2 separate regions of the Homo sapiens genome follow, and region 1 is linked to region 2. The links come from fine-mapping of genetic effects on gene expression. Tissue or cell type: nasal epithelium. Region 2 holds a variant in brackets; the other region holds the start of a gene. All regions are shown on one strand. Distances are from middle to middle.

The links. PIP is the estimated chance that this variant, and not a neighbour inherited with it, causes the effect.
Region 1: it holds the start of KIF13B, and the variant in region 2 is fine-mapped to the expression of KIF13B in nasal epithelium (TOPMed, PIP above 0.99).

What each region holds. Positions count from the first base shown.
Region 1 is chr8:29,257,872-29,266,427 of GRCh38, reverse strand. It overlaps KIF13B (kinesin family member 13B), which reads left to right and starts at 3,358. Exons shown (of 40, transcript NM_015254.4): 1 at 3,358-3,448. The coding sequence starts at 3,394. RefSeq lists a silencer at 3,151-3,980.
Region 2 is chr8:29,281,679-29,290,234 of GRCh38, reverse strand. LOC124901922 (a long non-coding RNA gene) reads left to right here. Exons shown (of 3, transcript XR_007060874.1): 3 at 687-2,262. Among named protein-coding and RNA genes, the nearest start is that of KIF13B, 23 kb to the right of the region's middle. The variant C/T (reference allele first, on the strand shown) is at 5,075.

The sequences.
Region 1 (8,556 bases), 24 kb after region 2:
AAGAGTACCAACCTGTGGTAACCAGTCTGGGGCCATGGCAAAGGTGACTTCAACACTAAATAAGAGCAAAAGAACAGTAGGGCAAAACAATTTCAATATAAAATCATACCCTTTATGATCTTTTTTAAAAAAAAAAAAAGATAGTGATGGTAGATAGTAATTTTTGTGTGCATTCTTTTTCAAATAATTTACTCGGTGACCTAGCACAATGGCTCACACCTGTAATTCCAACACTTTGGGAGGCTGAGGTGGGAGGATCACTTGAGGTCATGGGTTCAAGACCAGAGTGGGTAACATAGCGAGACACTGTTTCTACAAAAAATTTAAAAATCAGCTGGGCATGGTGGTGCATGCTTGTAGTCCCAGCTACTTGGGAGGCTAAGGTGGGAGGATCGCTTGAGCCTGGGAGGTTGAGGCTGCAGTGAGCTAAGATGGTGCCACTGCACTCCAGCCTGGGCACAGAATGAGACCCTGTCTCAAAAAAATATATACTTGCTAAAATTAAGAAGCTGTCATAGTGTCAAACACTGAGATTGGCAATCCTAATTTGGTTATCCTGATGTTGTTTACTTTATTGGGCTGTGAAAATCAAAGGACCTGCTGCACTAAACCCACTGCTGGTCTAGATGAGACCTCCTGAAGTGCAGAGGCAGTGCCCCTAAGAAAGAAATTTCCTTTTTTAAAAAAGAGGGCCTTCTGGGGTAGCATTTTCTATTTTTAACCTTTTTTGAAATTTTGATAAAAAACACGTAACATAAAACTTACTATTGGCCAGGCACAGTGGCTCACACCTGTAATCCCAGCATTTTGGGGGGGCTGAGGTGGGTGGATCACTTGAGGTCAAGAGTTTGAGACCAGCCTGGCCAACATGGTGAATCCCCATCTCTATTAAAAATATAAAAATTAGCTGTGTGTGATGGTGCACACCTGTAATCCCAGTCACTCTGGAGGCTGAGGCAGGAGAATCACTTGAACCCAGGAGGCAGAGACTGCAGTGAGCAGAGATCATGTCACTCACTGCATTCCAGCCTGGGCGACAGAGCAAGACTCCATCTCAAACAAACAAACAAACAACAACAAAAAGCTTACCATCTTGGCTGGGTGTAATGGCTCACACCTGTAATCCTAGTGCTTTGGGAGGCTGAAGTGAGGAGGATTACTTGAGGCCAAGAGTTCAAGACCAGCCTGGACAACATAGCGAGACTCCATCTCTACCAAAAAATGAAATATAAAAATTAGCTAGGTGTCGTGGTGCGTACCTGTAATTCCATCTAGGTGAGAGGCTGAAGCAGGAAAATCGCTTGAGCCCAGGAGTTTGAGGCTGCAGTGAGCTATGATCACACCACTGCACTCCAGTCTGGGCAAACAGAGCGAGATCCTGTCTCTAAAAAAACCCAAAAAACCTTACTGCCTTAACCACTCTTAAGTGGTTAGGTGGCGTTAAGTACATTTACATTGTTGTGCAACCATCACCACCATTCATTTCCGCAGCTGAAATCTTCCCAAGCCGAATCTCTGCACCCATTGAATACTAACTCCTCATACCCCCTTCTCCTAGCCCTTAGTAACCTCCAGTCTACTTTCTATCTCCATGAATTTGACTACCATGTGTATCTCATATATGTAGAACCATGCAGTGGTTGTTCTTTTGTGTCTGGCTTATTTCACCTAGCATAATGTTTTCAAGGCCCATCATCCATGTTGCAGCATGTTTCAGAATTTCCTTTCTTTTAAAGGTATTTTTAGACCGGACACAGTGGCTTATGCCTGTAATCCCAGCACTTTGGGAGACTGAGGTGGGTGGATCACCTGAGGTCAGGAGTTCGAGACCAGCCTGGTCAACATGGCAAAACTACGTCTCTACTAAAAATATGAAAATTAGCCAGGATTGGTGGCACATGCCTGTAATCCCAGCTACTGTCGAGGTTGAGGCATGAGAGTCGCTTGAAGCCAGGAGGTGGAGGTTGCAGTGAGCCGAGATCATGCCACTGTACTCCAGCCTGGGTGACAGAGCTAGATCCATCTCAAAAAAAAAAAAGTATTTTTATACTTTTTGACAACATTGCTTGTATTGAAGATACTCAATAACAGGATGGTTGGTAAAAGGGCAAGTCTTACCAGCTTTCTGTATTTACTCATCTGTAAAATGGTTCTGAGTTCTATTACTATCATTTAAACACATCTAAGCAGGGGTCACAAACCCACAAGGTCCAGGCGCATGTGTGGTAAAGCCACCTGGAGGGGGGCCGTGGTGAAGTGGAGAGACGGGTCTCTGATAAAGGTGGCTGCTGCTATTTAGTTCCAATCCACTCTGTCCAATATGTAATGTAGGCCCAGTACTGCATGCACAAATCTGATTTCACACTCTGTTACCCAAGCTGGTCTCAAACTCCTGGCCTCAAGCAATCCTCCTGCCTCAGCATCCTAAAATGCTGGGATTCCAGGTGTGAGCCCCTGCACCTGGCCACAAATCTGATTTTTATGTGTTGGCCAACACTGTTGGGCCAAACAGAACATGTTTGCGTGCTGGCTCTGGCACCCAGGCCACCTGTTAGAATGTCTGCCAGGGCTAATAAAAAGCTAATTTTAGTGTGGCCTCATTCATTAATTCATGCAATTAATGTTTATGGGTCTCTACTAAAGGCTAGGTTACACATATGTTAATCTTATTTAAAAATGTACCTATTTTACTAGGTATTAGTATCATATCCACTTTTCATATTAAAGACAAGCCCAGAGCGGTCAAATAACTTGCCCCTGGTCACACAGTGGGAAGCGCTGAGGTGGGCTTTGAACTCAGATGGTTTTCAGAGCCCAAGGTCCTGTCTCAAAGGAGGGGGACTCACAGGACAATGTTAACCCGTGGACCTATGGACACTCCCAGAAAACGTGATTTGCAACTTGTCGTGAAGGACGAGCTCAGCAAACAAGGCCGGACGTCAATCCAGGCAGAGGAAATAACTTGAGCCAGGGATCAAACACTAAGATTGGCAGGAAATGAGCAGGAAGAGGTAGCGGGGTCCCTGACGCCATCTATTCAATTGTTTTTCAGAAGAGGTATCAGCTCTTGAAGGCTTACTTCTCAATACTGGCTGCGAGAGCAAGAATGGTGTGTAATTTACAAAAGCCGTCATTGCTGTAGGTAAGTTGTAGCAAACGACTCGCGCCCGAGCATTCCCGCCCCCGCCTTCGCTGCGGCCCCGCCCACGACGACCCTGGGGAACTACAAGTCCCGCCATACAGCGGGGAGCGCCCGGAGCTCGCGCCGGCCCCGCCCCCAGCCCGGTCCCCACCCCCGGCTCCGCCCCCGGCCCCCTCCCGCCGGGTCAACCCCGAAGAGTCGCCGGTGGCCGCGGCAGACGGAAGCCGAACGAGTTCCTCGGCGGCTGCAGGATGGGGGACTCCAAAGTGAAAGTGGCGGTGCGGATACGACCCATGAACCGGCGAGGTGAGAGCCGAGCCCTCCTGGGCCGCCGGGGCGGAGGCGGCAGGTGCCTGGCGCGCCCTTCCCTCGGCCGCCGTGGGGGGTCCGGCGGCCCCGCCCCTATAGTCAGCGGCGGGGCGCGAGGAGGGGCCCGGGGACCCTGAAACCCGCTCCCGCGCTGAGACGCCCGGCTCCCTCTTCTCCCCTCCCTTCCCCCCTGGCCAGCCCCGTCCCTGGCGCCGTCGGGCCCCTCGTGCCGGCCCCGCTGCCCCTTCCGCCTGCGCCCGCCCCGCCCCTGCGCCCTTTTGCCCTCTCGTCTCCCCCGGAGGTTCCCGAGGGCGCCCTCGGCCCTCGCGCCCAGCCTCGTCCTGGCCCCTCAGCCTCGCTCCTTCCCCGCCAGCTGTCATCGTCGCCCCCGCGCGCGGGTCGCCAGCCCCTGCAGCCCGCCTCGGGACCGCCCGGGACCCCCCGGGACCCCGCGTCTCGCCCGGGTCGCCCAAGCCTGCACCGCCTTGGCCCGCGGCGGGAAGAAGGGCAGGGGGCCAGGCGGGTGCCCCGCGGCGAGTTCCTTCCACCTGGGCGTCCTGAGATTGGGGTCAGGTGGAGGAGATGCCCTTTTCGTTGTTTTTGGACAGTTGAGAAAGTTTTGGTTTTGCCTGAAGTCTCATTCATCATCTCTCAATAAATAGCTAAAGTGCCAAGATTCTTGTGGAATTGTATCTTTCTGACATTCTCTTAACTCTGCAGGGAGTGTAGAGAAGGCAGATAAACCGAGTACATTTAAATAATCTGTAGACCCGGGGAGTGGAGAGAACCCCAAAAGTCAGGGGAGGAGGTGGGCTGGGTCTTGGCTTTGATAGTCAAAGCAGCATGACTGGGTGAGTTGCTTTAAATAAGATAATGTGTTTGAAAACGCTTTATATACAAGGTCCTGTCATTGGGGGTCACTATTACTGTCTCAGGAGATGACTTTGCCATTGATGAGACTTTGAACTAATTAGAATCATTTAAGTACCAGAGACAAAGTTGTAGCTTCTTAGCAAAATCAAGTGTTGTTTAATTTTTATGTAGAAATTATAGGTTGTTTTCCTCTTCTTTGCTTTCTTTTGTATATATTGAGACATACAGATCAACCAGTTGACATAAGCTTTGTTGGTTTGTCCTTCTCGGGGAAATTGGTTTCTCGCTTGGAGTTATCTCATCTATGGGAATTGTTTTGTCCTGTTCCTGCTAGGTCCGATTAAAGCTGTCAGGTGAGTTTTTTTCCCTAAGAACTTAATTACTTTAAGTTCTCAACTAGTGCAAGATTGAGTCCTGCTTTGCTTCACTAATCTCGTGCTCTGACAACACACAATAAACGTCGATACAATTCTGAAAATTTTCAGAAGCATCAGTTTTTAAATATTCAGGTATCTGTATTTCAGTTTACTTCCAGTTTACCATCACAATAATTTAAAGAAAGAAGCCAAATGAAACATAACTTATCTGGGAATTGATTCTGAAAGGATGGTTTCAGCACATTCTTAAAATTTCCTTTTCACAAAAAACTTGGAAATGTCAGTGCTAAAAAGAGGCCGCTAACCAACCACCACAAAAGACATCTCAGATATTTAGAGCCCTTTCCCTCTCCCTTTCCCCATTGGTTTCACTTTTTGAGGGAAATTCTTATGCTTTTCTCTTATAAATTGCCATTGATAAGGTTGTAATAAACATCAGAGTTTAGAGGAAGGCAAAGAATAATAGTTTTAGCTGTGGAACGGATGTGAGCTGATCCTTGGGTTCAACAATCATTTTGAAATTGAGGTTTACCCATAGATTCCATTAGCCTATATAGAGAAGTGCATTATTTGGTGTAAAGTACCTCCTGTGTTCACTTAGTGCCCATTCTTAGCCTTATATTTCCTGACGTGCATGTGGACTTCTTTTTTCAGTGATTACCACACATAAATTTGTTCTTTTCCATTTTTGTTATGAAGTAATTGTTCACATAAATATAAAGGTTATTATGGAATACAGTGTGGTGGGATTGTAAATCCAGTGATTTTTAAAAATTGGTGTCCAAAGTTTGTATAAAAAGACTAAAACAGGCCAGGCACGGTGGCTTACGCTTATAATCCCAGCACTTTGGGAGGCCGAGGCGGGTGGATCACCTGAGGTCAGGAGTTCGAGACCAGCCTGCCTAACATGGCAAAACCCTGTCTCTACTAAAAATACAAAAAATTAGCCGGGCGTGGTGGTGGACGCCTGTAATCCCAGCTACTAAGGAGGCTGAGGCGGGAGAATAGCCTGAACCCAGGAGGCGGAGGTTGCAGTGAGCCAAGATCGTGCCACTGTGCTCCACCCTGGGCGACAAGAGTGAAACTCTGTCTCAAAAAAAAAAAAGACTAAAACAAAACCATATTTCTTTCCAGTAATTTCCTTTTTTTTCTTCCTTGTATGATCTGTAGGAACCTTTCCAGTAATTTTGAAAAGAATATTACTTTGAACAGTTATTAGTATTATGTAATACTGTATAATTATGACAAAGAGTAAAACTTGAGTCCTAATAGTTTCTATCATATAGGTGCCGGAAGCAACCTTATAAATCGCTATCTATAAAAGAGGACGGGGATGAGAATGGGTTACTGTGATGATGTAGTTTTACTGTGTAGACTCTGATATTTGGAATCACATTAGCTATCTTTTGAGGAAAATCTGAAAATTTCCAGAAAACTCTGGTGTATTAAGTTCTTGTGTGATTCAGTGGTTGTGCTTAGGTGTTTGGAGTTTTAAGGTGGTTAGCTGATTTATTATTTAACAGTTATCCTCGAAGTGAGAGTATTTTAGTCTTTCTGCTAAACTGTATGTGGGTTTGGGAACCTTAGTTATTTGAAGGTTAAGCATTAGGCCCTAATTCAGTAACAGGAAGAGTTGTAATGGCTAATTTGTCAGAAATATTTGTCTAGTCATACATTTATTTTAACATTCCACTAACAAAAGGAAAAAGAAAAAGAAAAAAGTTCACATACTTTCTTCATCCTAACAGCTTTTCATTTCCATGCCAGTTTGTGCTCACACGTGTATGTAATTTTACATAATTTTAATATTACAACCTTTATTTTGCCTTTCTTCATCTGAGATGCAAAGCTAAACAACTAGAGAAAAGGGTAAATTTTTGTCACAAGATCTTCAAGTTCTATTTGCAGATATCGTTTGTTTTCCAGTGTTGTTGTTCAGACTGTACAGCTAAACAGATAATTCTTGTGTGCTTCCATGTGCCGCACAGAACACCCATTCATACATTATTAACCCGTCTAATCATTACAGGAGCTGAAAGTTCTGTAGCCGTAATTGGTGGGATTAGTTAGATCAGCAACATTCTCCTTTCCAGGAATTTGATGTTTTCTAACTTTAGGTGGCTTAAAAAACATTTAATAGGTAAGCAAACATTGATTGAGTGCCTGCCAGGTATCTGGCTTATATTAGATAGGATGAGATCTTAATGCTTTTCCTCAAGGGATTTCCTGTGTGTAAATCTGTATAAGATCAACTACCAAAATAAGTAAATATCTATAAAAGGTGTTTGGAATACCTTTGTTACCTACCTAGCCTAAGGGGGTAGAACCGGGAAACGAAAGAAATGAAGATAGAAACAGTGAAATAGATTATTTCAGGTGTTAGGGAGAATGGACAAGAAATTTATTTCAGGAGATATTTCAAATGAGTTTACTTGGCATTTTCCAATACTTGATGTGGTGAAAGACACAGAAGTATGTAATAATGTCTAATAGAGTCAATGTAGAGTCAGTGCCTTGGTAATCATGATCTAGTATCTCAATGGAGGGACTATTATACAGCGATTAAAATGATGACAGTCAAAACCATTTAACAAGGAAGATCGTTTTCTCTGTTAGTGGAAAAAGAATGTAAAGCTGTACGTGTAACTGATCAAATCTATTATTATTACTATGTAAAAATGTATACAGGAATGGGCAAGAGCTAGAAAGAAACATGAAAAAGTGAAATTGATTGTTCTTGTTAGGGGGATTTTACTTCCTAAAAGTTTTCTTAGGGTTGCCTGTTACCATCATATTCAGTTTCTTAAAGCATGCTTTATGGTTCATGCCTGTGAGGAAATGACTGTCATGGGCTTGAAAAGAAAATGCCTGTGAAAAGATTAGATTAAAAGGTAAACAGCTGTAGCAGGCTGCTAGTTACTAAGTGCCAGGTGAATGACAGGGAAATAAGGGAATCGAGAGGAGTTTAGACTTCACTGAGGAGGGTGAACTTTGGTTGGACTTCCAGGGAGGAAGCTTATGATGTGAGCACGGGAGAGGGGATGGCATGTATTCTTTGAGGAGGAAGTATGGCCTGAGAGTGAGGACACAGAGACTAGAATGAGTAAAGCAGGTTTAGGCAGCAGAGATGAGATCTGCCTGCCAGAATGGAGATTCTGTGAGGATAGCTAGAGAATGATGGGACAGGAAAGGTCAGGTGGATTGCAGGAAGCCCTGAAAGCAGCCAGGCCAGAAGTCCGGACCTAGGGTGGCTGGTCCACGCACTCTGTTTTGCTTCTTGGGACCTTGTATGGGGCTTGGACACAAACACAACGGGGAAAGATTGCTAGATCCCAAAGCAAGATTGGAAGCTTCAGTAGATGACCGATTTCTGGCATAGCTGGGCAGGATTTAAAAGCGCTTGCTGAAAATGAAGCCTTGTGAATGGGAAGCATAAGGAAGTCGGTCAAAATTAAGCAGCTGTGAATCAACAGGCAAAGGAAAAACCCAGCAAGTGCGAGGAAGCTTAGAAGATGCTGGTAGTCAGTGAAGATAGAGGTGACCCTTAGGAAATGAAGGGACAGGAGAAGGTGGCTTTGACCCCTGGGGTCATTGGTGATTCTTCAGTATTCTCAGAGAGATCACTGACAGATGTGGAGCCAAGGAGGACCGTGGATGGAAATTTCTGGCAGTATTTGCTAAAACAGAAGATACTTGTTTTGTCAGCATCTGCTTGACATGCTAATGGTGAATGAGACACACATGTATTACAACATTGTTTTGTTTCTACTGTCAACTCAGTGACTGAAATTTGGATATATGCACATAGGGCCAGAGGCATTTTGAGAAGAAGGTATACTTTTAAATTCTTTTCCC
Region 2 (8,556 bases):
GTTTAGAAACTAGGCATGACAAAGGGTAGTCAAATCTTTCAGTTCAGGGTATAAAGCACCTTAAAAAATATTTTATACTTAGTATCACTGAACTATACACTTAAAAATGGTTAAAATGGGCTGGATGTGGTGGCTTATGCCTGTAATCCCAGCACTTTGGGAGTCTGAGGCGGGAGGATAACTTGAGCCAGGAGTTCAAGACCAGCCTCGGCAACATAGCAAGACCTTGTCTCCACAAAAAATAAAAATAAAAAAATTAGCCACATATGGTGGTGCATGTCTGTGGTCCAGATATTCGGGAGGCTGGGGTGGGAGGATTACTTGAGCCTGGGAGGTTGAGGCTGCAGTGAGGTGAGCCGTGACCGCATAACTGCACTCCAGCCTGGGCAACAGAGTGAGACCTGGTCTCAAAAATAAAAGGTTAAAAAGGTCAATTTTACGTTGTGTACATTTTACCGTAAGAAAAAAAGTTTTAAAGAAGAATTACCCAAGAGAGCTTATCCACAAGTGTGTGACTCATTCAGTTGGGTGGAAGCCAATTTCCAGGGCAGGAAGCTGTGAAATATTCATTTCTGAATAAGCAAGATGAACACCTGTGAGAGGGCTCGTTGGCAAGTCGTGTTTCAGAGCCACACAGCAACATTAGCTTTTAAAACAATGATACTTTAAGCATGGCTTCTATTCAGTCACAGGCTCCCTTCACAGAAGGAAGGTGGAAAAAGCTCACGTGAACGTTGCTTTCCTGTCCTTGGACTTCTGACATCCCTCGGGCCAGCCCTCAGCAGTGAGCCAACCCGCAAGTCCTGCTCAGGATCCAGTGGGAAGGCAGCTGTCCTCTTGGATGATCCTGGCACCATATTGGAAGGAGTCCATCTGTGGAGGCCATCAGAGATTTGATCACCTCAGCTGTTGTTCAGCTCCTCCGGGGACTGGGGGAATTTTCGTGCCATTGGTGTTGACAATGACATAATCCTAGCTCTAAGTCGTCTAAGTGTGTTTCTCCACAGATACACATCAAGTACTAGGTGGTGCCATTCTGTCCCACACAACTGTACAATAAGTCTTCTCAAAGGCTGAGAAGACTCACCATACAGAGCTTCATTCCTTGAAACCCTAAGCTGGAACCCTGAAACCTTATTTTTTCTTTCAGCTACCATAAGGCTGAAATTAACCATAGCCTTCCCAAGGATTGGTTTCTTCTCAAAGAGTTTTAACTTATAAATAGGACCAAAGATTTTAAAAATACAAATGTTTGTCATTAAATGAAGTCATGCAAGTGAAAGTGCCTAGAATAGTACTTGGCTCATAGCTGGTACATGGGAAAGTCTTGTTTTCCACCTCCATGTACTCCAGACGCAGCTTAGAAAATCAGGTAACTTGGCCGGGCTCGGTGGCTCATGCCTATAATCCCAGCACTTTGGGAGGCTGAGGCAGGCGGATCACGAGGTCAGGAGTTTGAGACCAGCCTGGTCAACATAGCGAAACCCCATCTCTATCAAAAAACAAAAAATTAGCTGGGCGTGGTGGCGGGCACCTGTAATCCCAGCTACTTGGGAGGCTGAGGTGGGAGGATCGCTTGATCCTGGGAGGCAAAGGTTGGAGTAACCTATGATCACACCACTGCACTCCAGCCTAGGTGACAGAGTGAGACCCTGTCTCAAAAAAAAAAGGCAGAGCTGAATAAGACCGTTACTGTCACAGGGCTTTCTTCAATAAATGCTAGTCACTATTTTGTTTGTTTGTTTGTTTGTTTGTTTTTGAGACGGAGTCTGGCTCTGTGACCCAGGCTGGAGTGTAGTGGCATGATCTCAGCTCACTGCAACCTCCACCTCCCAGGTTCAAGTGATTCTCCTGCCTCAGCCTCCTGAGTAGCTGGGATTACAGGTGCCCACCACCACACCTGGCTAATTTCTGTATTTTTAGTAGAGACAAGGTTTCGCTATGTTGGCCAGGCTGGTCTTGAAATCCTAACCTGAAGTGATCCTCCTGCCTCGGCCTCCCAAAGTGCTGGGATTTCAGGTGTGGGCCACTGTTCCGGCACTTTTTTTTTTTTTTTTTTTTTTTTTGAGGCAGGGTCTCGCTCTGCCACCCAGTGGCAGTGACTGGAGGGCAGTGACTGGACATGGCTCACTACTACAGTCTCTATCTCCTGGGCTCAAGCAATCCTCCTGCCTCAGCCTCCCAAGTAGCTGGGACCACAGGCATGTACCACCACGCCCAGCTAAGCCACTATTATTAATAAATGTTTGCCTTAGAACAAAATTGACTACATTATACCTCAATGTCTGATCACTCTTCCTACATTTTCACTTTTTTTCCATCACTCTTCTGATCAAAATCTCCTAGAAGCTGGGCATGGTGGTACGCACTTGTGGCCCCAGCTACCTGGAGGCTGAGGCAGAAGGATTCCTTGAGCTCAGGAGTTCAAGACCAGCCTGGGCAACATAGCGAGACCCTGTCTCATAATGAATGAATTAATTAATTAAAAAATCTTCCAGGGTCCTGCTCCATGTGGATAAAACCCCAACTCCTTAGCTTAAGTAGAACTTTTTTTTCCTTTTAAAGCTAGAAGGAGCTTTATTGATAATTTATTTTCTTATTTCATTTTTTAGATTTGCCTTGGCATATAGACCTTTGAAAAAATATATATATAGTTGTAATTATTAATAGTTTTGGGGGTACAAGTGGTTTTTGGTTACATGGATGAATTGTATAGTGGTGAAGTCTAAGAGGATTTATTTTATCTCTGTTTAAAAAGCACATTTAGGATTGTTTGAATGTTTCTTTCAACACTATTTTTGTAAAGCTTATTTTGTAATTACTAGCCAGTCACAAGAAAATGAATCCATCAGAATGAACTTCTTAGCAGCTCTGAAAACCTACCGATAATCCAGTGGCACCCAGTCCCGGCTGCACATTAAAATCACCTCGGGCCTTTAAAAACACACCAGCGCCTGGGCCCAACCCCCAGAAATTCCAATCTAATTGGTCTGGGGCGTGGCTGAACACTGGGATTTTTTTTTTTTTTTTTTTAAAGCTCCCAGGTGAGTCAAATGTGCAGCCAGCGTTGAGTGGCACTGTTGTCACCTCTGTTTCTTCACACCTGAGCCTTCGTCTGTCGGCTCATCTGCAGCCACACAGTTCTCAGGTTCTTCCTCCTGGGCCCCATTTGTCTGGGATAGGCCGAACTCACCCCAGTTCCTGCCCTGGAGCAATTATACAGACGTACCTTCTAAAGCAAACAAGCCTTGTCTTCAAATCAGGCCACAAACACACCTTGACCCGCCCTCATAACTTCCTGGATTCTTGATCCGGTTTATGGTTTACTGATAACATCCTGGATAGAGAACCAGTTTCAGACTTTCGGTGACCTAGTCACCCCTTGGCTGGGGCTGGAATTTCATGTTGTCTGGGCTCCTTGATGGTCCCAGAATGGTGGTGATTATTTTTCTTTGGTCCTTGGTGCTGCATCCCCTGAGTGCCAGCTTGATAGGTTCTAGTTTCTTAGCTTTTGCAAACTGGAGCTTTCATTTTGCAGTTCTAAACTGCCTCGCCCCCACCAGCCCCCAACCTCAGCCACTGGAGCCTTACAGGTCACCAGCTTCCGCTTACTCTTCTGATAAAGGACTAGGTGATGAACTGAACATTGAAAAACAAGGAAGAGAGAAATTTGGAATAAGTTAATCTAGGGAAAGGGGGGGCAGTCTTTTGGGTTGATCCAACACAATTTACCTTTCCTTTCCTTTTCTTTTTTTTAATAGGGACAGGGTCTTGCTATGTTGCCCAGGCTGGTCTCAAACTCCTGGACTCAAGTGATCCTCCCACCTCATCCTCCCAAAGTGCTGAGATTACAGACATGAGCCACAGTACCTGGCCACAATTTACCTTCTCTTTGGTGTCTTAGGAACCTGAGGATAATGCATGGGGTATTCCAGTAGACTGTGCAAAACCCACCATCTTCCCATTTTGATATCATGGTTTCTGCTACTCATCTATTCCTGCCTCCTTTTTTGCTTTCCCCTATTTTATCACATGTGGCACAAGAAACCCAAATAGAAAAGCACAATTACTTCTATAGTCAGAGCAAGAATGAGATTTCAGAATCAAAGGAACCATGTTGGACTACGGAGTAGGCAAGAGTTACAGGTGACAAGGATTCAACATGTATACAGTTCCCTAATACAAGGCTTGCACCACTTGTCTGGGAAGGCCATGCTCTTAATGAATGTCCCTGCAGTAGACTTGAGACTCATCATCTTGTCCCTCCTTGCCTTGAGTCATGCCAGTGTAACAGACTCGCAGGACACAGCCACAAGTCCCATTGTAGAAGCAGGTGCTACCTCTCACATCAGCTCACTACATCCCTTCTGCAGTTGTCAGCTGAGAGCCACCGAGTTCACAGTCTGTTCAGGGGAACTCAAGACATTAAAATCAACTAAAAGATGCATCAAGAATGAGGGAATCCGGTTGGGTGCAGCGGCTCCCACCTATAATCTTAGCACTTTGGGAGGCCAAGGCGGGCAGATCATATGAGGTCAGAAGTTTGAGACCAGCCTGGCCAACATGGTGAAACCCCATCTCTACTAAAAATACAAAAAATTAGCCCAGCATGGTGGTGTGCACCTGTAATTGCAGCTACTGGGGAGGCTGAGGCACAAGAATCACTTGAACCCAGGAAGCGGAGGTTGCAGTGAGCTGAGATCGCACCATTGCACTCTAGCCTGGGTGACAGAGCGAGACTGTTTCAAAAAAAAAAAAAAGAATGAGGAAATCTACACTAAGGAATGAGAACTGTGGGCAATTTACTCTATAATTAAAGTTACTTATATAAGTCAGAACAATAAATAATATAGGGTAATTCTCTACATCTTGGTGAAACCTTTGGTAAATTTCTTTGTGGAGTTCCCTTATTTCCATTTTTTGTTGTTTGTTTGTTTGTTTTGAGGCAGGGTCTCACTCTGTCACCCAGGCTGGAGTAGTAGTGCGATTGTGGCTCACTGCAGCCTCAACTTCCTGGGCTCAAGGCTCCCTCTTCAGCCTCCTAAGTAACTGGGACCACAAGCACATGCCACCA[C/T]GCCCAGCTAATTTATTATTATTATTATTATTATTATTATTATTATCTGTAGATATGGGGTTGCACTATGGCTGCCTAGGCTGGTCTTGAACTCCTGGGCTCAAACAATCCTCGCCTCAGCCTCCCAAAGTGTTGGATTACAGGCGTGAGCCACCGTGCCCAGCCTGGAGTTTTCTGTTTCTCATGGTTTATCTCAGCATCAGCATCCCATTCTAGTCTGCAATGGAAAAGTCATTTCCTTACAGCATGAGCCTTACTGCTAATTCCAAAAATTTCATGTTCACAGTTAGCAATCACTCAACCTTCAGACAGTACTAAAACATTTTATTTGATTATTTTTAAAAAGCACCAGAAAAAAAGTGTTGATTACAGAAAATTGGGAAAATATGAAAAGTATAATAAAAAAGTAAAATGAGCCATAATCTTCCCACTCACATATAACAGTGTGAATTGTTTCTTTCTAGTTTTTCTTTTTCTTATACTGTATATATATTCATATACATGCATTGTTTGACAAAAAATTAGATCACACTGTAAACTGCTTCTTAAAGTTACTTTTTAAAATGAGTTTTGGCTAGGCACGGTAACTCACACCTGTAATCCCAGTACTTTGGGAGGCCGAGGCGGGCAGATCACAAGGTCAGGAGTTCAAGACCAGCCTGGCCAACATGGTGAAACCCTGTCTACTAAAAATATAAAAATTAGATGGGCGTGGTACCAGGTGCCTGTAATCCCAGCTACTGGGGAGGCTGAGGCAGGAAATTGCTTAAACCGGGAGGCAGAGGTTTCAGTGAGCCGAGATTGCACCACTGCACTCCAGCCTGGGCGACAGAGCAAGACTCTGTCATGGAAAATAAATAAATAAGTTTTAAGGTACAAAAACATGAGTTTAAAGGACTGCATTTATTCATTAGAAGGGCATGCAACATAAAACAAAAGGACTGTACTTAATGACTGCATCCCATTGTTAAAAAATTTAATATATTACATATATGTCACAGTTTATTTCCCTACTGTTGAAAATTTAAACTATTTTCAATTTTCAAATGTTATAAAAAAAACCCAGTCAACTATCCATAATTATAAATGTTTAGGAACTTCCTTAATTATTTCCTTAGGATAAATTTCCTGAAAATGGAATTACTGGCTCAAAGTTATAAATATGTTTAAGACTCTTGAAATGCACATTCAAGTTGCTCTCCAGACAAGTTGCACAAGGCTGGGAATGGTGGCTCATGCCTGTCATCCCAGCAGTTTGGGAACCCAAGGTAGGAGGATCACCTGAGGTCAGGAGTTTGAGACCAGCCTGGCCAACAGTGGTGAAGCCCCATCTCTACTAAAAATACAAAAATTAGCCGGGTGTGGTGGTGGGCACCTGTAATCCCAGCTACTCAGGAGGCTGAGGCAGGAGAATCGCTTAAACCCGGGAGATGGAGGTTGCAGTGAGTTGAGATTGTGCCGCTGCACTCTTGCCTGGGCGGCAGAGCGAGACTCCATCTCAAAAAAAAAAAAAAAAAAAAAGAAAGAAAAATGAAAAGTTGCACCAATATATATTTCTACCACAAATATCTGAAAGTTTGTTGTTCACAGGGCCTGTGCCTGTGTGGTTTTAGCAGTTAAAGCTCCACATTTCACAAGAGTCCTCTGCAGGACATGAGAAGTCCCAGTTTTTAGCAATGAATGTGGAAGACTGAGGTCAAGTACAAAACTTGCATGGCAATCAAAAAATTGGGGTTGAAAGCAACACTGGTTTCGGTGTCAAGCGGTTAGTGCACAGACTGTCCACCTTCCATGGTCATTGGCCACTGATACTGATTTGCAGTTCCCAGTAATAGACATTATTATTAGGGACAAGGGCTGCTATAATTCTTGCTGGGCATGATAGGACTTCAGTGCACAACTCACATGCTTTGTTACTGTGAGCATGGACAGTCTGGCTCTGCCTTTGCCTGTGGAGTAACTGTTGTGCTTTGTTTGTATTGAGATAGTGTAGTTTAATCTTTAACACTGTGACTATTACGATCAGGTTTTCTAAGAGTTCAGATTACAATACCAATGCCAGCATGACCCAGTAGTCACTGAAAAGGAAGGCTAAACAACTGTGTCATTTTAATGACAGTTGGAAGGACAGGGTGCCTGATTAAGGAGGCAAATAGCAGAAACAGCACATACTTGATGGGTGGGGTGTGGTAGACAGGAGAATAAGGCACATATGGAGCAGATTCTCACAAGTCTGGGGTTAGACAGGCAAGACTTTCTCAATCAAAAGGTTTTTTGGGTTTTTGTTTGTTTGTTTTTGAGACAGGGTCTTACTCTGTCACCCAGGCTGGAGTGCAGTAGTGTGATCATGGCTCACTGCAGCCTCAAACTCCTGGGTTCAAGCAATCCTCCTTCCTCAGCCTCCTGGTAGCTGGGACTACAGGTGCACACTACTGCACCCCACTAATACTTTTTATTTTTTGTAGAAACAGTCTTGCTATGTTGCCCAGGTTGGTCTTGCACCAAGGATCCCTTGGCCTCCTGCCTCAGCTTCACCTGGCCAGAAGTTTTTCTGTTTCTTCAAAAGACACCAAAAAGGCTGGGTGTGGTGGCTCACACCTGTAATCCCAGCACTTTGAGAGGCAAACGTGAGATCACTTGAGGCTAAGAGTTTGAGACCAGCCTGGGTAACATAGCAAGTCCCTATTGCTACAAAAAATAAACCTATTAGCCAGGCGGGGTGGTGCGCACCTGTCTCAGCTGCAGGGAGGCTGAGGAAGTAGGATCACTTGAGGAAGTAGGATCACTTGAGCCCAGGAGTTCAAGGCTGCAATGAGCCCTAATGGCACCACTGCACTCTGGCCTGGGTGACAGAGTGAGACTCCATCTAAAAAAAAAAAAAAAGAATTGGCTTGAGCATACCACGCTAAAGAACACACATTATCATATCGTTCCCTTGATTGCTCTATGAAACACCAGTATTTCAAAGAATGGGTTAGATCACACCAACAACAGTCACCATGAAGGGAACCAGAACATGCCACGTTGGCATATTGACTCTTTTGAGATGAAGGCAATTGAGAAATAGCAGATGTGGGAAGAGCTCTCTGTCCTCCCACCTGTCTAAAAATAAGGCATATATTTCCCCTCAAAACAGGTAACTCTCTCCTTGCCCCAGAACAGAAGAGCGTTTTGATAACTGGATACAGGGAGAAGACATTGAGACCAGTTTGCATAAACACACCTTACTCATGAAACCCTTATCTTCCATTAGTTCTCCCATATATTTTTGTTGTTGTTGTTTGAAACAGAGTCTCGCTGTCTCCCAGGCTGGAGTGCAGTGGCGCAATCTCGGCTTACTGCAATCTTTGCCTTCCAGGTTCAAGCGATTCTCCTACCTCAGCCTCCCGAGTAGCTGGGATTACAGGTGCCTGCCACTACACCCTGCTAATTTTTGTATTTTTAGTAGAGACGGGGTTTCACAATGTTGGCCAGGCTGCTCT